Regions from separate parts of the Homo sapiens genome. Here region 2 is linked to region 1. Evidence: fine-mapped expression QTL. A gene starts in region 1. The other region holds a variant in brackets. All regions are shown on one strand. Distances are between the middles of the regions. Region 1 holds the start of TMOD2 (tropomodulin 2). Region 2 overlaps DMXL2 (Dmx like 2).

Region 1 (2,914 bases):
AATGCAAACCAGTGTTATCATTTTCAGATGTGGAATTTCCTCTGCAGCACGTTTTTTTGGCCACACGATTACTGCACACCTCGTGCCAGACAGACTATAAAGCTGTTTCACCTCTTTTCACATTTTGCCTAAAATTTCATATAGAGATTACACCAGCCATGCTGCATCCATCCCTTTGGTTCATTTTCCTCCACTACATCTGTGAATGCAAATCCCACCATCATGTGAAACACTGCATAGCAGCAACTTGCAAAACTCAACGAACCTTAGACTGCCAAGATAAGTCCCATAAGCAAAGGTTATGCTCAAAATATGCTGCAAAAGTTCAAGAAGGAGAGAGATATCACATCTAATTAGAAAAGGCCTCTGGAAGTTAAATCTAGATGCCATGTATTTTCATAATGTTGGTCTTTGTCCTATGTCACCCCACTCTGCTGTCATGCTTCAGAAACTTGACTTTATTTTCTCTATCTTTGGAGCTCTCAAGAACCTGGCAGACAGAACATCTCAGGGTATATTCAGGGATGAAGTGAACGGGCTCAACGACTAACAAACCCAGTGGATTTTAACATTTACCCAGCCCAACGAGGTCCAACTATCTTTAGGTTAGCACGACATATAGGACTTTCCCGGCCCAAGAACTCCCTCGGAAACCCCAAGGAAGGAACTTTCACTGAGTATGCACTAAGTGCCAGATCCTAAGTGCTATGGGTCGCTTAATCCTCACAACACTTTTTCAAGCTTGAAGCCTGTTTTACAGATGAGGACGCGAAGGCTCAGACAGGCTAAGTTGTCCGGTCTCACCTCAGTGAAGCCGCCACTGCGCTTGGGCTCTCCAGCCCCTCACGCCATCACCCTAGAGCCTTGCTAACTTCCACCTCGCTTACCTCCTTCCCTCCCTAGGCTGCCAACCCAACTACTCTCTCCTCCCACGCCCACGCCCAGCCAGGAAAACCTGGGGCGGGCGGGGTCTGTACCTGAGACCGCTCTCAACGCGGCTTCCGTGTCAGGATGCTCGCTCACAGGAATGCTCATCACAGGCTTGAAAGCCTTTGCCATCCACGCTCTCCGGAGCCCCGAGCGTCTCCAAAGAGCCTGCCCAGGCTTCTCCCCGACCCAGGTGCTTCCTCCCCTGCAGAGCTGTGGCGGGGTTCAGACCCCGATTCCGGGAGAGGACACCTGTCGGGGAAGGGCGGGGCTGGGGGACTGCGGGGCCGCGGCGAGGCTCAGCCGGGAACTACGCTTCCCAGCCTGCTCCGCTGCAGCCGCGCGCCCCGGCGCCGCGCCCGGCCGGGAGCCGCCTGTTGATCGCCGCGCTCGCCCCGGCCACGGCGCCGCCCCTGTTCTCCCGGCCCCGCTCCACCGGGGCTGACGGACTGACGGCCAGCACAGCCGGCTCCGGGATGAGCGCACGGACGGGTGAGCGCCCCGGGGGGCGGGTGGGGCCTGTTCTGGACAGCCGGTGTCTGCAGCCCCCGGGCCCGCAGCGCGGTGGCCGCCGTGCCCTCCCTGCCCGCGGGAGGATGCTCCGCGACATGGGCGGTCGGCCGGGCGGGCGTGCAGAGCCGGGCCGCCTCTCGCCTCTCGCCTCCCGGCCCGGTCGGCTGCGCCGGGAGACCAGGCGCTGCGCCCGGGCGGGAGGCGCCCGCCGGGGTGTGAGTCCCGCGCCCCGCACTGCGGTGCCGCAGCCTCTGCAGCCCGCTGGGCCGCAGCGGGGAGGGCGCGGTCTCCTGTCCTCCCGGGCTGCGGGGCTGTGTTCTTCCACTCCGGGCTTTGTTCCCCCACTTTTCCCCTTCCTGTGCATGTTTGGTGAGCTCCTGGAGCGGTATGCATCTCCCTGCCTCGTTCAGCAGGCGATGGGGAGGGGTGGACTGGCCGGCGTCTTTCCTGAGATCGCTGGAGCTGTCACTCGCAGGGCGTTTCAGCCTCCCAGTAAGCGGCCTCGTGCGGATCCTCGAGAACCTTATTATTATTGTTATTACTTTTCTGGTTAAAGTAATTGTAGTATGTGCTCCCTTGAGGCTTCCTAAATGTTCCCTGTTGACCTGCGGAAATGAAGGTGGATTTTTAAAACAGTAATAAAAGGCTTCTAATGGGAATTTTTAGAGTATTCAGAGGTAGGAAGGTGATGCCGTCACAATGCAAATTAGCAGTGAAGGAGGCCGTGCTTACTGCAGCTTCGTCTGTGCCCATTACATATCTGAATCACGAGGCATTTAGGACGGGAATGAAAAGAAGATCGGGGGAGGTGTTTTAAAAACCAGGTTCTCCTCTTAGCTTGACCATTCAGGAGCTGAGGGACCTGGGCAAGTCCCTCCACCTCTCTGGGCCTCTGCATGTAAAGGGGCGTTTGGGCTAAATGATTTGTAAACCTCTGTTCTTCCAAGATTCTCCCCTCTCAGGGAACTGAAAAGATGAGAGTGTTTCTGTTTAACAGCACTACAAAAAGCCTAATTGTGACAACAAGCGCCTCTACCCTAGTGAGGAGGAAAGATTTTTCAGAGCTTCAGCAATCTGATTTTTTTTTAAAGATAAAACTGATTTTCTCGATCGACTCTCTTCAGTCTAACCCAATAAATACGCATTGCAATCATTTTAATTTTTGTAAGGTACTGTACATTGGTGGGCAACAAAATGATGGGGTTTGTTTTTGTCTTTAATTTGCTGAAGGTGAAGTGATGGGATCAGCAGATAAAGGATTAGTGGCTCCCTAGGGCTGGGCACGAGTGGTCAAATGTGGTCAGCATGGAGGTCGGGGAGGAAGCCCCAGCAAGAAGTAACCAGAATGTGTATACACAGAAAAGAGAAGTTGCGTACTGATGGATCATTGTTTGAAAAAGAAATATGCAATAGAAGGAATGAGAGAATCAGGAACTCGGCGCTCTGCAAACCTAACATAACAGTTGAATAAGGC
Region 2 (2,914 bases), 130 kb before region 1:
CTGATTTGTTCTAAAAATTTACCAAGATCCAAGTTAAGATAATCTGATTATAATTTCTAAAGTAATATTTTAAATAGCCCAAATCCTAAGAACAGAAACTAAAATAAAGGCATTGCACGGGAAAAGGAAAGCTGCGAAAGGAGAACCTAAACACCATCACACTGGTCCCATCTCCCACCCAATACTGTACTATGACAGTCGCAGGCAACTATCATCTGCCAGGTGCCAAGGACCAAAACCTAATCAAGAGGCTTCTCCTCAGCTGTAAGCCCAAAGACTCATTCCTAGACCCACTACTTCATAAATGCTCTGAATGGCCTATCTACTGAGCCAGAAAGGAGGTCAGACTCCCCGACTGTGAGGTCTGATCAAATCTTGTAAATACAAGTGAGATCTGATCAAGTCTTGTAAATACAAGTGAGAAGCAATATACGATAAAGACTCCAGACCTACAACTTCAACACAACCACTTTATGTTTCTAGTCCATTTTCTCTTTTGACCCCTGAAAATCTCTAGAGAAGTCCATATAATTTTCATTCGTGGTCTAAATACTTAAAGAATATCTTTAAGAACTTCTTTTACAGATCAAAGACCTAAACATGTTTAAGTGATTTCACCAACACCATACAAGTAGTTGGTCTCTGACCTCCCATTTTTGGGGAAGACATTATTCAGAACCTTACCAGAGTTTCTGAGTAGTTGCTAGGAGTCTTCTTGCTACAAGCAAGAAGGCTAATTAACAATCTACGCAGGGACATAAGAACTTATAAACCCTATATTCACTTACTGGTTGACACTAAGCCCAAGCCCACAAGGTTTTAAATGTATCCGTTTAAACAAACAAGAAGCTACACTCCAAGAACAAAAAGGCCAATTTCTCTTAGAAAACAAGTCCATTCTAAATTCTTGACTTCTGTCTTTCACTTTCCTCTCAGCACAGGTTAACACATTAATAACCAGCCAGTACAGAAGCATGTTTCTAACCAACCCCTTGATTCCCCTGGCCAAAAGTTCTCTTAGTCTTCCTGAATTCCCACTTAAATGCTGGTAATATTGCACAGCTGGCCTACTGTGGTTAGGTATGTGTCTTTTACTCTCGTATTAGACTACCAGGTTCCTACACTTCTTCAATAAACTCCCTGAAATCAAGACTATGTCTTGTAATTCTTTTTTTTTTTTTTTAATACCCACAAAGCTTAGCACACCTATGTGTTCAACATTTGCTAAATGTATAAACTGGTTGATCATTTTCAAGGTTTGGTGTTACCATAACTCTAGGACTGAAATTTTATTCTACAATAGAGTTAAGACATATCTAAATGCCATAAAAGAGGTTATACAACATTATTTTCTAATTTTTAAATGAATGGTTTTCCATTTATTTCCAACCTTTTGTTGGTATTTTAATTTAAAAAAAAAATTGAATGTCAGAATACCAGGTACGTTTTCCTGAAAAGCTACAGGTAATGTTTGCATATTATATTTTTTCAACATTCTAAGAGTGTCTGTTATTTAATGAAGAAGTCCTGTG[A/G]TTAAAAAGTAACTTTTGCAAAGAAAACAGTCACTCAATAATTTATCCTTCGTATTATGCCATTCCTTTGCTTCTGTTGTTCTTATCTTTCCAAACCTTACTCTTCCATAAAACCTCTTCTTGTTTTCCCAACTACAATCTCTTCCATCTGCCTTATGTTATAATTATATAAATCATTTTAATCTCTGCCAGTATATTATAAATTCCCTAAGAGTGCAAATGACTTACTAATTTTTGTAAACTTTGATCAATGTGTTGAAATCATGTCACACTGGAATAATAGTAACTGCCCCTATACATCTCAAAATAGTCTGCAAGCCTTAAGGCCAAATGAATTTTTAATTTAAAAAATCATCACGTATGATCATTATTTCAATTAATATTTTAATATGTGCAGTAAAGTTTAAAAAATAGCCAAGGACTATCTTTCAGAAAAGTAATAACATAAATAATGAGAAATTTACAATATCTGTTGCATAAACCCTCAAAACATTCACTGAAGGGTAGTAAGAAATGTCTTAAAGGCAAAATAAAGTATAATAAAGCTCATACACGGGAGAAGATCATCTCTTTGAACTACCAGAGATTTGACTTATTGCAGGATAACATTTCGAAAACCTAGATCTTACACTGAAAAGAACAAAATTGTTCAAAAGGTGATGTTTTAAAATGTGATATCTACAGCTACATTTACGAAATCACAATCGAATGTTTAAGGAAACAGCTGTATACTGCCTAAACACAAGTGAAAAGCATCATAGCTTACGTGATACCACTAAAACCACAGACATCAGCTGAGATTGTCCACTACAGACTGCAGTACCATGTCAATATTGCACAAATTGGGACATCACGACATCAAGTAGTCATTCACAGCCAACCAATCACGCCACCCACCATGCACAGCAAAATATATAACACACATTTCTTTCAATTATTACACTGTCATAAACTCAAAATCCTTTTAGAACAATTCTGTTCTTCAAAGATGTATCAATTTTAGACTCTGAAATAAAGTATGTATTGTATTTTGAAAAGGTTCTCAGGCTACCATGAAACACAACATCAGCTAAGAATCATGAGTTAGTTGCAAGACAGTAGTTCCTTCTACACTATGTCTGGGAGGCCTTCCATCCATCCACTAACCCACCTACGCACCCACACACCCTCTCCAGAGCAGGCACTCTGATATTAAGAAGGAAATACTACCAAGAAAAGCCCACACAATGAGAAGTCACAAGACCTTCATTCCAAGTCCTGGCTGGTCCCCCTTTTAATCATCTGATCCAGAACTAAAGTTTCTTCATCTGATTGCTCTAAAATCAAGTGACAGGCTCCATGAAGAGGAGCTTGCTTTTTATTTTTACTATTATATTACTTTA

The links. PIP is the estimated chance that this variant, and not a neighbour inherited with it, causes the effect. A credible set is the group of variants that fine-mapping cannot tell apart.
Region 2: its variant is the best candidate, but not a certain one, in a credible set for the expression of TMOD2 in whole blood (TOPMed, PIP 0.75).

What each region holds. Positions count from the first base shown.
Region 1 is chr15:51,750,294-51,753,207 of GRCh38, forward strand. It overlaps TMOD2 (tropomodulin 2), which reads left to right and starts at 1,304. Exons shown (of 10, transcript NM_014548.4): 1 at 1,304-1,419. It also overlaps a transcript of LYSMD2 not described here. RefSeq lists an enhancer at 858-927 and silencers at 1,038-1,467, 1,518-1,627, 1,658-1,717.
Region 2 is chr15:51,617,146-51,620,059 of GRCh38, forward strand. The region is part of intron 1 of DMXL2 (Dmx like 2); the gene reads right to left. Among named protein-coding and RNA genes, the nearest start is that of DMXL2, 4.2 kb to the right of the region's middle. The variant A/G (reference allele first, on the strand shown) is at 1,533.